Linked DNA regions of Homo sapiens. The protein of the gene in region 1 purifies or fractionates together with the protein of each later gene. This does not show direct contact. Each region holds a gene or a part of one and is shown on either strand. Other genes may lie near its edges.

Region 1 (7,265 bases):
CTGGGACTACAGGCGCCCGCCACCACGCCCGGCTGATTTTTTGTATTTTTAGTAGAGACGGGGTTTCACCGTGTTAGCCAGGATGATCTCGATCTCCTGACCTCATGATCCACCCGCCTCGGCCTCCCAAAGTGCTGGGATTACAGGCGTGAGCCACCACACCCGGCGTGAAAATACACTTAGTGGTTATTCCTGGCATTGAGATTATGGGTGATATTTTCTTCGTTTTCCTATTTTCTAAATGTTCTATCGTGGACACATATTATTTTTGCTACAAAAGAAAATTATCTTTTTAAAATTTGCTGAAATTCCCCAGAGTCGCTACAAAAGACAAACTACTCTATTCCACTTGATGGAGTAAGTGTACTTTTGAAATACATACAAATCATATATTTTCATTTTATTATTTTTTGAGACAGGGTCTCTCTGTCACCCAGGATGGAGTGCAGTGGTGCGAACACAGCATCCTTGACCTCCTGGGCTCAAGAGATCCTCCCACCACAGCCTCCCAAGTAGCTGGGACTACAGGCTCGCATCACTATGCCCAGCTAATTTTTGTATTTTTTTTATACAAAAAGTAGAGACGGGGTTTCCCCATGTTGCCTAGGCTGGTCTTGAACTCCTGGGCTCAAGCAATCCACCCCACTGCCTCCCAAAGTGTTGGAATTGCAGGCGTTAGCCACTGCACCAGGCCTGTTCTTATTTTAAAAAGTCACAGGTCTAAGCCCTGATCCTGCCACTGCACTCCATCGTAGGCAAGAGTGAGACCCTGTTTCAAAAAAAAAAAAAAAATTTCAATCATGTCCCATTTTTCTTCGAAAAAGGAATAAATGGCCAGGTGCAATGGCTCATGTCTGTAATCCCAGCACTTTGGGAGCCCAAGGCGGGTGGATCACCTAAGGTCAGGAGTTTGAGACCTGCCTGACCAACATGGTGAAACCCCATCTCTACTAAAAATACAAAAAAATTAGTTGGGCGTGGTAGCATGTGCCTGTAATTCCAGCTACTAGGGAGGCTGAGGCAGGAGAATCGCTTGAACCTGGGAGGCAGAGGTTGCAGTTAGCCAAGATCACGCCACTGCACTCAAGCTTGGGTGACAGAGCCAGACTCCGTCTCAAAAAAAAAAAAGAAAGAAAGAAAAGAAAAAGGAATAAATCCTTTAAATACCTTTTCTTTTTAATGGTGGCTCACACCTGATCCAGCACTTTGGGAGGGAGAGGCGGGAGGATGGTTTGAGCCCAGGAGTTCCAGGCTGCGATGAGCTATGACAGTAGCACTGCACTCCGGACTGGGACAGAGCTACGCCATCCCTAAACAACAACAACAAAAAACAAAAACAACCCAAAATGCAATGTAAAGAAATTTTACTTTGTGTAGAAATCAGGAAGGGCATCATACATTAGATAATCTGAACTGAACATTGGAATAGCAACAGGTAGCCAGGCTTGGTGGCTCACGCCTGTAATCCCAGTATTACGGGAGGCCGATGTAGGCAGACTGCTTGAGCCCAGGAGTTGGAGACCAGCCTAGGCAACACGGTGAAACCCCATCTCTACCAAAATAAAAAATAAAAAAATAAAAAGTACAAAAAAATTAGTTAGGTGTGGTGGCACACACCTGTAGTCCCAGCTACTTGGGAGGCTGAGGTGGGGAGGCGGAGGTTGCAGTGAGCTGTGTTTGCACCACAGCACTCCGGGCTGGGTGACAGATTGAGACCCTGTCTCAAAAAAAAAAAAAAAAAAAAAAAAGCCACTGGTTACCAGAAGCTAAGTGATGAACAATACAAGGAACGAAGGAAAGGTAGAAAAAAATAAGCCATGTTTCATGTTTGTCATTCAGGGAAACTTAAAGCGGGATGGGGTCTTACATACTTTCTATTCTAGGCTTAACAGTCCAAATTGTATTCATCCTTTATCTACCAGTTTAATCCCTACCTCCTCCAAGCAGATTCTCTCCATAGGTTTTGATCCCCAGAGTTAACCTACCCTGCACTTGTAGTCTATTACAACCCTGATCTGATAATGACTGATCATTTTTTCAGGTAACAAAATCAACACTTTTTAAAAACTATAAACAGCTATAAAATGCTAGTTACTATCATTATTCTCTAATTCTTTCACTAGTAATCTTCAAAAAAACCTTGCAAACCTAATCTTTCCACACCCTGCTTAAATCCTTTCAGTTGTGTCCGTTTTTTCTTAGAAAAAAGGCATAAATCCTTTGAATGTCCTACAGATCTTGCAATGTCTGGTTCCTGCTTATCCCTCTAGTTTCTTAAGGAGATAAACTTCTTCCCATCACTGAGCTTCTGCATGTGCAGAAGCCCTGGAAACCTTGTCCTTTACTCCTAGTTTGACCTAGTTAGCTTCTGCACATACCAAAATCTGTTTTCATTCATCCCAAATCTGTTTTCACTCTCATTGAACCGTAACCGTGTTCCTTTGTGTGAGACAACTCATCTCGGTTTGTATTTATGTATCGTTGCTTTGATTATTGAACTGAGTATCTCTCCCACTAGAAAATAAACTCCATGAGATGGGGGACATTACCATTCACATCCCTGGGAATACCAGGCACTCAGCTGATGCCTGTCGAATGTGTTAGGTTGCCTCTTCCAACCACACTGCAGGCATCCTGGTGCCCGCTTTGGCTGGACTGCACTGGGGGTGGCAGGACGGTTGGGCGCGGAGGAACTACCCCGCGGATGAGAAGAAAGGTTTTAAATAGGAAACATTCCTCAGTCGGCGGTCAGCTTCTCTGGTCTCGCGCGGCTCAAGCCATGCTTTGGGGGACGCTGGGCGAAGGCTCTGGCAAAGAGGAATGCAGACCCCAGGATCCGCACTCGCCCCCAACGGCAGTCCGGATCCTCGACCCGGCACCCACCTCCCGAAGCAGCTTCAGGTCCCCGTGCTGGATCTCGTACAGCTGAATGACGCCGGTGCCCCGTGCGAAGTTGCCCATGGTCACAAATTTGGCGCTGCAGGGCACCCACTTACAGTCAAACACCGTGTAGTTGAAGCCCTTCTGGATATGGGCGATGATCTGAGGCTTCTCGAAGGCCGACATGGTGCAGCCAATTTCAGCTACGGCAACCGCCACACCCAGAGCCCCCAAAAACGGCAACCTGGAAACCAGACTCCAAACATTGGCAATTTGTCCCTCCCGCTTTCCGTATTCTGCCCCAGATGCCCTGGCATGTTGGCTGTAGTTATCCCCGGATAATGCCAGATGCGCTCCTGCGATCGCACAGAATGTTCCTTCACAACAGCACGAATTTGTTTATCGCCTTTACCCACTGCCTTTCGCACACATACATACTAGAGATTACAAAATACTTGGGCTGGGAGTTGCGCGGCTGGAGTGAGCCCAAGACCATCAGGCATATCTTAGGACAGCCTAACCCCGTTTTCCCCCCCACCGGCCCCAAATCCTGCAGGTCCCCGGCCTGTGACGTTTTAGGAAAGGGGCGGAGCTGCAGGGGTGGTTGGCTGAGGCTGGCTTCTGCGTGGTGCAGCTGCGCACGTGTTTCAGCCGGCAGCGCTTTAAGATTTCCGGGGATGGAATCCGAAATGGAAACGCAGAGCGCCAGGGCAGAGGAGGGCTTTACCCAGGTCACCCGCAAGGGTGGCCGACGGGCGAAGAAACGACAGGCTGAACAGCTGTCCGCAGCAGGAGAGGGCGGGGATGCGGGCCGCATGGACACAGAGGAGGCCAGGCCGGCGAAGAGGCCCGTCTTCCCACCCCTCTGTGGGGACGGGCTCCTGGTATGTGGCTGGGACCCTAGGACAGCAACGAGGCAAGGGCCAGACGCGGATCAAGCCGATGGCCTCTGGAGAATGTTGAAGCTGCGGTGGGGCTGTTCTGCCGTGATGCTCAGAGAGAAGTGATTCTTTGAAGTGTAACTAGTTCAGTTAAAGGAGGCCCTTTGTGGATCAGATGTCATTTTAAACTCCATCACCGTCCCTCCATAGCCTTCTGAGTTGTGTGTTCTTTTATTTACAGAGTGGGAAAGAAGAAACAAGGAAAATTCCAGTCCCAGCTAACAGATACACACCATTGAAAGAAAACTGGATGAAGATATTTACTCCTATTGTGGAACATTTGGGACTTCAGATACGCTTTAACTTGAAATCAAGGAATGTAGAAATCAGGGTAAGGAAAATCTCAATCATTTCCCAATACACCAGGCTTTCTCTCCTACAGAGATGAAAAGGCATGAATAGGCTTTACTTAATGGGACTTTTCTGTTGTATGGTTTTTGTCCAGTTTAAAAATTTACCATATTGAGTTTGAACTTCCCAAATGCCTTAAAAATCTGCATTCGATACAAATATTAATTGAATTTGTAAATTAGTTCTGAGATCACACCAAAATACTGGCTCTTCTTCTGTGTATCTTTTATAATGTTCTATGTCAAATTGAGAAAAGGTCGAGTAAAGAGATTGCCATAAACAGAAGCAGGTAAATAATGAATATAAGCACTTGCTGCTTTACAAGAAGTATATACAGTCAGCGTCGGGAATATGTTCTGGGATATGTTTTGTCAGATGACTTAGTCCTTGTGCGAATATTATAGAGTGTACTTACACAAACCTAGATGGTATGTGTATATTTGTTTATATATTTTTTTCATATGGAAAACCAAATGTCCCAGCACCATTACTGAATATCAGTCATTTCATCTACTTGATCTGCATTGCCGGTATCCAGTGCCATATATCAGGTTTCTGTATATTCTCCATTATACTGTTATGAGACCACCATGGTATGAGCGGTTGGTCACTGATCAAAATGTCATTATGCAGTGCATGACTGTGTTTTAATGGTGCTCTTTTGATTAAAAAATGTATTATTTTGATAAGAAACATGCATATATATGTGTGTGTGTGTGTGTGTGTGTGTATATATATCTTTTTATTTTGCTCTTTCACCCAGGCTGGAGTGAGTGGCATGATCTTGGCTCACTGTTAACAGGTGCCTGCCACCAAACCTGGCTAATTTTTGTATTTTTAGTAGAGACTGGGTTTTAGCATGTTGGCCAGGCTAGTCTCGAACTCCTGACCTCAGGTGATCACATCTCGGCCTCCCAAAGTGCTGGGATTACAGGCGTGAGCTGCCCCACCGAGCCTATGTATATATTTTAAATTCTGTGCTATCAATCCGGGAATTAGACATTTAAATTTACTTTGGGCTTTCTTTTCTGGGTGCCAATTTCATACCAGAATCGATAACCGAAATTAATTATATTTTCCTTTTTAAGGATTCTTTTACCATCATCCGGACTGGTATAGTCTCATCTCTGTTAATGGAATATAATAATGGAACAAAGAAAGGCACTATTCTAAATAGTTGATAAAGTGTAAAATATCATAGAACATGATAGAGTAACTCCTCTTTGTCCCTGTTGCCATTCTCTCATTCAGGCTTTTATGGTTTCCTGCCAAGGAGTGGTTTCGTTGTAGGTTTCCCTTGCTTCATTGTTTGACGTCTCTCCTTTCTCCACTCATCCATCTGCCAGTGCCAGATTAAGTTTCCCAGATCACAATGCTTTTATGACATCCTGGCATCTTCAAAAAACAAAAAAAAATTTTTTTTTTTTTTTTTTTTTTGAGATAGAGTCTTGCTCCGTTGCCCAGGCTGGAGTGCAGTGTCGCAATCTCGGCTCACTGCAAGCTCCGCCTCCTGGATTCATGCCATTCTCCTGCCTCAGCCTCCTGAGTAGCTGGGACTACAGGCACCCACCACCACGCCCGGCTAATTTTTTGTATTTTTTAGTAGAGACAGGGTTTCACCGTGTTAGCCAGGATGGTCTTGATCTCCTGACCTCATGATCTACCCGCCTCTGCCTCCCAAAGTGCTGGGATTACAGGCGTGAGCATCTTCAACATTTCTAAAGGAAAAAGTTTTGGACTTAACTTGCTTTTCAAGTAGGAGACTCAGTCACAAGTTTGTCTCTCACGGATCATAAAGTTTGTTTATGTCCATACTTTTTGGTGGCTTTGGCCTTTGAAAGAGGTCCGCTCCTCCCTACTCCTTTCTCTTTATACTTCAGTTCCAGTATCTTTCCGGGTCTAGCTCAAGTTCTTTCTCTGTTATGGTATGTCCATTTTTCAGTCATATCTTCAGTGCCTAAACTTTTCATGTGCTTTATTGTCCTATTTATTGCAGGATAATCACTTTGGATTCCACTAACATTTGTTGATGCTGCCATATACCAGACACACAGTGGTATTACACCATGCTCTACATCATTTAGTCTTCAGGATATTCCCATCTTAAAGATGTGAGGAAACTTGGCCACAGTCATCAGTCTAATAAGGGAAATTTTCTATTATACTAGTAGGGAACACTCAGGATCTTCTACTCTGACCTCCTCATTTTACTGATGAGAAAACTCAAGACCTAAAGTATCTATGGGACTTGTCTAAGGTCACATATAGGATTGGAACTAGGGTCTAGTTTTAAATGGGAAAGCTCTGGGGACTCTCCCATTGCACAAGCCCATATGGTTTTACATTTGTTGAATACGTGGTCTCTTCAACTAGACTGTGAATGTGCATGGGACAGTGGAAATAACAGTTTTGAAATCAGACCTGTGTTTAAATCTTACCTTTTTTGCTTTTTAGTACTTTAGTTTCCTCACATACGAAGGTAGTCATATCACTTAACATTCAAAGTTGTTGTGAAGGTTAGAGTTATGGTGTGTAAAGCATGTTATTTATAGTACGTGTTATTTACAGTGGTAGGCTTTTTATGAATAACAGTTATTTCTGCATTTCTCAAATAAACTTTGAGGACAGGTTCAGTGCTTCATTCATTCTTTATTTCCCCAATCAGTGCATGCAGGTAGTTAGGCCTGGAGCTGTTGGTTTAAGAAACATCAGCATATAAATGATAACTAAGAAGATTAAGTCAGGAATCCCAGGGAAGACTGCCTTGAGAGAGAAGAGAAGAGGACATTGGGCATTGAAGGGATGGACAGAAGGTAGAGGTTCTTCAGAATGGGAGAGATTGGGTTGTGCCAGAGGAGTCTTGCTGTTAACCCCAAAATCTGATCATATAGTGCGGTTAGTTATTTGACACTCTTTGGGTGGAACAGCCAAGCTTTGGAGCTGGGAACGTTTTGTTTTGCAAATAAAGTACAGCACTTATCTGACCAGAACCTGTGTCATACAGAATATATTAGGGAAAGGTGGTGGTGAAGGAAATTCTCCAATAATGGGAAAGGACATTTCCAGTATTTTGTTAGGACATTTTCTGTTTGA
Region 2 (7,000 bases), on another chromosome or scaffold:
CAATCAAGGAAATCATGAAAGAGACTGTGGATGTGGCTAAAAAAACTGGCATAGCGGTGGTGAAGGGTTTCAAGATATGAATCTTGGAGAAACTCAAGAGCTAACAGACATTACATCAGAGGAATTAACACAAGATGACAGGCCAGGTGCAGTGGCTCACGCCTGTAATCCCAGCACTTTGGGAGGCTGAGGTGGGTGGATCACCTGAGGTCGGGAGTTCAAGACCAGCCTGACCAACATGGAGAAACCCCGTCTCTACTAAAAATACAAAATTAGCTGGGCTTGGTGGCTCACGCCTGTAATCCCAGCTACTCGGGAGGCTGAGACAGGAGAATCGTTTGAACCCAGGAGGCGGAGGTTGTGGTGAGCCAAGATTGTGCCACTGCACTCCAGCGTGGGCGACAAGAGCGAAACTCCATCTCAAAAAAATAAAAAATAAAAACAAAAAAAACCAAACAGAAGATGACTTGATGGAGACGACTGCTTCCAAAGCAGTGCCAGACGATGAGGAAGATGATGTAGAAGCAGCAGTGCCAGAAAACAAACTGACATTAGACAATCTGGCAGAAGGCTTCTGATTATTCAAGACTGCTTTTGACTTCTTTTATGATATGGACCCTTCTATGATAGAGGCACTGAAACTGAAGCAGTGGAAGAGGGACTGGTACTATACAGAAATATTTTTAGAGAAACAAAAAAGCAGAAGTCAGACAAATCACGATGTATTTCCATTGAGTTACACTGAGTGTGCCTCCTGCCCATCCTGCCTCCCCTTCTACCACTCTTCTGCCTCTGACACCCAAGACAGAAAGACCAGCCCGTTCTTCCTCCACAGCCTATTCAACATGAAGATGATGATGACCTTTTTGATGATCTACTTCCACTTAAGGCATAGTAAATGTGTTATCTCTTCCTTATGATTTTCTTTTTTTGGAGACGGACTTTCACTCTTGTCGCCCAGGTTGGAGTGCAATGGCACCATCTCAGCTTACTGCAACCTCCGCCTCCTTGGTTCAAGCAATTCTCCTGCCTCAGCCTCCCGAGTAGCTGGGATTACAGGCATGCACCACCACACCTAGCTAATTTTTGTATTATTATTAGAGATGGGGTTTCACCATGTTGGCCAGGCTGGTCTTGAACTCCTCACCTCAGGTGATCCACCTGCCTTGGCCTCCCAAAGTGCTGGGATTACAGGCATGAGCCACCGTGCCCTGCCCTTATGATTTTCTTAATAACATTTTCTCTAGCTTACTTTATTTAAGGGAATACAGTATATAACACATATGATATACAAAATATGTGATAGTTAATTGTGTTATTGGTAAGGGTTCGGGTCAACGGTCAGCTATTAGGAGTGGGGGAGTCAAAAAATTATACATGGATTTTCAACTCCTTGGGGACTGATTCCCCTAACCCCCAAGTTGTTCAAGGGTCAACTGTACACTTAAGGCAACTAGTCATCACTACTATAACCAGATATAGTTGAATTCAAAATATACTTTGTGGTTACTAAAATCTGGACAAATTAGTTCTCATGCATATCTAACATGTACATATTTCAACTAGAGAATTAGAACCTGCAAAAAAGAAAGATAAAAGAAAAAAATTAACATGTCTATACTATATAATGGTAACTTCTAGATATAACCCATCCTGTACTGCCCAGTTGAGTCTCCAGGCGAATAATAAAGACTGTACCAAAGATGCAAAGGTCAAGCAAGGAGGAAGGCGAATAAACATGTAAGTAGAGTTGGCCCTCTATATCCGCAGGTCCCGCATCCAGATTCCACCAACCATGCACTGATAACATGGCAGGGGGGGTGGGGTGGGGGGATGGACAATAATACAACGGCAAAAAATAATATAAATTTTAAAGACAATATAGTATAGCAACTATTTATATAGCATTTATGCTATATTAGGCATTATAAGCAATCTAAAGGTGATTTAAAGTGTATAGAAGGATGTGTATAGGTTATACACAAATACCATACCATTTTATATAAGGGTTAAGCATCCACAAACTTTAGTATTCAAGGGGGCGGGGATCCTAGAACCAATGCCCTGTGGATATCAAGGGATGACTGCATACGTCTGACCGAAGTTTAATGAATGTAGGACTAATTGCTTGTCACTCCCTCCAACTCATGGCCATGTGAAGTCAACTATGTGTATGCATGTTAATACCCTTTGGGGTATAAAAGTATAAAATATGATTTGGATCTGTGATATATTATGTTGGGGTAGATTTGTCAGCTTTTTGATAAATTAAAAATGAATGAACTTTGCTGGGCATGGTGGCGCATGCCAATAGTTTCAGGTACTGGAAAGGCTGACAACAGGATGACTGCTTGAGCCCAGGAGTTTGAGACAGGCCTAGGTAACACAGCAAGACCTTGTCTATTAAAAAGAATGGTCTATGAGCACAGACATCAGTGCAGAAGTAGTGAATGCAATCTAGAATCGCATAAATCGCAGCTAAGGATGTAGCTGAGGAAACTGATGGTTCTGCTATAATCCAGGCCACTTAGGATACTCTGGAAATGTTCATTCAAAAATCATCATAATGACATTAAAGAAAACCTCTTAGATAGGCAGTTATTTAGAAATGTAACGGACACCCACCAAGGTAGCAATTACAAATGTCTAAGCACAAGCTGCTCACTAATGGTTAGGGGCAGTACAGATGAGACTCACGCAGTAAATAACTGTTGGACTAGAGGACTTCTGAAGAGGGCAGGCAGCTAAGCCAAGGTTATTTCTACCTGTTACTATATCCTTTATTAAACCTTTTCAGGTAATGATGACTGTTACGCAACTACAAAAAGGAAACACACGGGAAGAAAAGTCTTGTTTTTACCTGGCCTACTCACCTAGCAATGCGATTATTGTCTGTCTTCCGGACTCTGCGGATGGCTGTGATATTGGCCCGCATAAGGTAGTGCTGAGCTAAATCTACAAATCCAAGAGTAGAGATGTCAAGCTGGGTTCTGAACTGGTTTTATAATCAAAGTACTCTTAACCATGACACTATTACGCCCCTGCCAAACATGAGGGGAGAAAACAAATCACCCACCCTCGTCTACCTCAAAGGTAGGCTGGAAAAAGTAACAAAGTCCCACCTGAGATGCCCTTTTCAGTGATGACCACATCGGGCTTCAGTTGGATAATGTCCTCACAGAGCTGCTGGATGTACTCTTCCTCCATCTGGAGAATTCGGGTGAAGTCCTCCTCTCGTGTAATCTCAATGTCAGTCTGTGTGGTAAAGAAAAGACACTGATTTTAAAATCCCTGGACTGGTGAAGCTCTAAGGGTCATATTATACTCCTTCCACCCACCTCTCCCACGTATCTCAGAGTCAGAATTATGTTAAAGCCATGACCTCAACACCTCTGTAAGCCAATTTAGCTTTAGTTTTGCTTTTTTTTTTTTTTGAGACGGAATCTTGCTCTGTCACCCAGGCTGGAGTGTAATGGCGCGATCTTGGCTCACTGCAAGCTCTGCCTCCTGGGTTCAAGCGATTCTCCTGCCTCAGCCTCCCGAGTAGCTGGGACTACAGGTGCCTGCCACCACCCCCAGCTAACTTTTTTTTTGTATTTTTAGTAGAGACGGGGTTTCACCACGTTAGCCAGGATGGTCTCGATCTTCTGACTTCGTGATCCGCCCGCCTCTGCCTCCCAAAGTGCTGGGATTACAGGCGTGAGCCACCACGCCCGGCCAGCTCCAGTTATATCATTATAAAACAACCAGAACTGAAAGTCACACAGTAATTAGTGTTGAGTTTGGCCTTTCTAAGGTCTCTGACCACCCAGTCCAATCCTACATCTGTCCTGGCAGTGTGCAGGAAAATCCTGGGTCTTAATTCTTCCCACTAATTGATTCTTATTCTTTCCAAATGTGATGGAGCCTTGTGAGCCTCCTGCCCTCTAGAATTTTTTTTTTTTTTTTTTTGAGACAGGGTCTCACTGTTGCTCAGGCTGGAGTTCAGTGGCGTGATCACAGCTCCTTGCACCCTTGACCTTCTGGGTTCAAGCAATCCTCTCACCTCAGCCTCCCAAGTAGTGGGGACTACAGGCACATGCCACCACGCCCAATTAATTTTTTTTAAATAAAGACAGTATTCGACATGTTGCCTAGGCTGGTCTTGAACTCCTGGGCTCGAGCCATCCACCTGCCTTAGCCTCCCAAAGTGCTAGAATTATAGGTGTGAGCCACTGCATTAAGCTGAAATTCTCCTTTAGTACTTCAAAGCTGAATTAACTCCTACCTTATGTTCCCCTGGTGCATTAGGAAAGGCAGCATGATCGTATAAAACAAGCCAAACACAACCAGGTTCAAATCTTGATTTTGGCCAATACTAGCTGTATTCCTCAAGCAATTAACCTAACTTGTTTGAGCTTCAGATCCCTCATCTGTAAAATGAAATCAATACCAACTATTCTAAAGGATTGTTCTAAGAGTCAGTGTACACTATGCACCCAGAAGGCATGCAATAAACATACGTTTTATTTCTGTTGTTCATATTTGCAGTCAGATTCTTGCATCTACTTTAAGGAACAAGGCCAAGAACCTTACCTGGCTTTCTCCTTTCTTGTATTCCAGAGAAGAATCCAGCAGCACAATGCGAGGGTTCTTGATATAGCGCCGCATACGTGGATGGGTCACATCCTTGTTAATCATGACTCCACGCAAGACACAGGAGTCTTCAATGATGCCTCCAGGTATCTGAACAAAAGACAACTGCACTTTAATCCACAATCAAGAGACAATTTCTTAATTTCCTTCCCAGATGTTCATCTTTCCCAAACAGCTAGTGTTTCAGGTTTTTTTTTTTTTTTGAGATGGAGTCTCGCTCTGTCGCTCAGGCTGGAGTGCAGTGGTGCAATCTCGGCTCACTGCAAGCTCCGCCTCCCGGGTTCACGCCATTCTCCTGCCTCAGACTCCCAAGTAGCTGGGACTACAGGCGCCCGCCACCACACCCGGCTAATTTTTTTTTTTGTATTTTACTAGAGATGGGGTTTCACCATGTTAGCCAGGATGGTCTCGATCTCCTGACCTCGTGATCCGCCCGCCTCGGCCTCCCAAAGTGCTGGGATTACAGGCATGAGCCACCACGCCCGGCCCAGTGTTTCAGGTTTCTAAAGTACCTTTCTTTGATGAAGCTCAAAAATATTATTGGAATCACATTTTTTTCCCATTAGGAAATACACCAATTTTAGACCATGACACTCAACTTGAAGGTCTGCTGAGACTCACTGAAATTCAATGACTTGACAAAAGACTTAGAGGGGCTTATGAGCCAGGCACAGTGGTTCACACCTAAAATCCCAGCTACTCAAGAGGCTCAGGCAGGAGGATCCCTTGAGGCCGGGAGTTCGAGACCAGCCTGGGCAACACATTGAGACCCAATTGCTATTTAAATAAATAAATAAGGGCTTAGGTCTCTCCAATTAAAAAAATAAATATATTGCCAGAGAATTTTAGGCTTGGGGCTCCATCTACTGGCCACAAGCTATACTACTAAACTTTTGGATCTTAATGAAATTTAGTGGACAGGAGAGAAAGCTTTCTGGGGCTTACTATTTTAATAGCACTACATAATAGAGCCCTTGTTAAGCTTATATCCTGACCAAATGACTGATGTATGCAAATACACAAACATGGAGACACCAATAAGCCTGTCCCTTGTCCTCATAAACCTTGTGTAGGGATAGCAGTGAAGGTAACAACAAAACTATTTGAAGAAATTCCTACTTGGTAGCCTCTTATAGGTTTTTGTTTCCAGGCAGCAAGTATAGTTCTTCCTAGTTCTAACTAAAGATACCTTGCTTTGGTCAGGCGCAGTGGCTCACCCTATAATCCCAGCACTTTGTGAGGCAAAGGTGGGCAGATCACTGAGGTCAGGAGTTCGAGACCATCCTGGCTAACATGGTGAAACCCCGTCTCTACTTAAAATACAAAAAGAAATTAGCTGGGCGTGGTGGCAGGCATCTGTAATCCCAACTATTTTAAAGGCTGAGGCAGGAGATCACTCGAACCCGGGAGGTGGAGGCTACAGTGAGCCGAGATCGCACCACTGCACTCTAGCCTCTGCGCGACAGAGCAAGACTCCATCTCAAAAAAACAAACAAACAAAAAACATACCTTGCTCTGATTTAAAACTATTTCATTCAAGTAGGGTATGATGGCTTATGCCTATAATCCCAGCACTTTGAGAGCCTGAGGTGGGAAGATCACTTGAGGCCAGGAGTTCAAGACCAGCCTGGGCAACATGAGACCCTCATCTCTACAAAAAGAAAAAAAATTTGCTGGGCACAGTGGCATGTGCCTGTAGTCCTAGCAAATCAGAGGATTTGCTTGAGGCCAGGAGTTTGAGGCTGCAGTGGGCTGTGACTGTGCCACTATACTCCAGCCTAGGCAACAAGGTGAGACTCTGTCTCAAAAACAAAACAAAACAACGGCATGAAAAACAGACTATTTCCTCACAAGTGAGATGACTCATGCTAACATATAATTTGACCCAATGTATACACTTTGAAAGTTTACCTTTTCCACTCTTGCATATTTTTTTATGTCAATCTCTTTCCGACCATTCTCCTCAAACTGTACCATCTTGACAGCATCCAGGGCAATGTTGCAAGCCAAAGATGACCACCGACTGATGGCTTTGGTAGTAATAGAGCTGTTGATGATGTTCAGCATCATATCACTGTCACTGATGTCGACTGGGATACTAGAGAAAAGAAAACCAGACGATATGTGAAGAAGGCATGTTAGATATGTAGAGATGTGCCTTATCTATACCTCAGTGACTATAATAATGGACCAAGAGGCAGAACAAGGGGATTTGTTCCTTTGGAGGAAACTAAAAGGACATTAGGAGGTAACCTTTGTCCATTCCTCTGCCTTTCAGCAAGATTACAACTCATCTGTAGACGGTGCCTTAATTCCCTGAGCAACCCTTTACACTTACATACAAAGATTATAGTAAAATAATTTG

What was found. The genes of interacting proteins can lie anywhere in the genome.
Region 2: the proteins of DNAAF10 (region 1) and CCT3 purify together in Homo sapiens (affinity purification with mass spectrometry; 4 studies listed by BioGRID and IntAct, with this or other methods). This does not show direct contact.

Annotation. Positions count from the first base shown.
Region 1 is NC_000002.12:68,154,378-68,161,642, forward strand, and holds the start of DNAAF10 (dynein axonemal assembly factor 10), read right to left. Parts: upstream 3,151-7,265; 5' UTR 3,067-3,150; coding exon 2,884-3,066; intron 1-2,883. Other genes in the region: RNA-binding protein PNO1, read left to right, coding at 3,558-3,764, 4,003-4,152. UniProt on the Homo sapiens protein: Key assembly factor specifically required for the stability of axonemal dynein heavy chains in cytoplasm.
Region 2 is NC_000001.11:156,314,293-156,321,292, forward strand, and holds part of CCT3 (T-complex protein 1 subunit gamma), read right to left. Parts: intron 6,734-7,000; coding exon 6,547-6,733; intron 4,726-6,546; coding exon 4,576-4,725; intron 3,256-4,575; coding exon 3,123-3,255; intron 2,956-3,122; coding exon 2,874-2,955; intron 1-2,873. UniProt on the Homo sapiens protein: Component of the chaperonin-containing T-complex (TRiC), a molecular chaperone complex that assists the folding of actin, tubulin and other proteins upon ATP hydrolysis.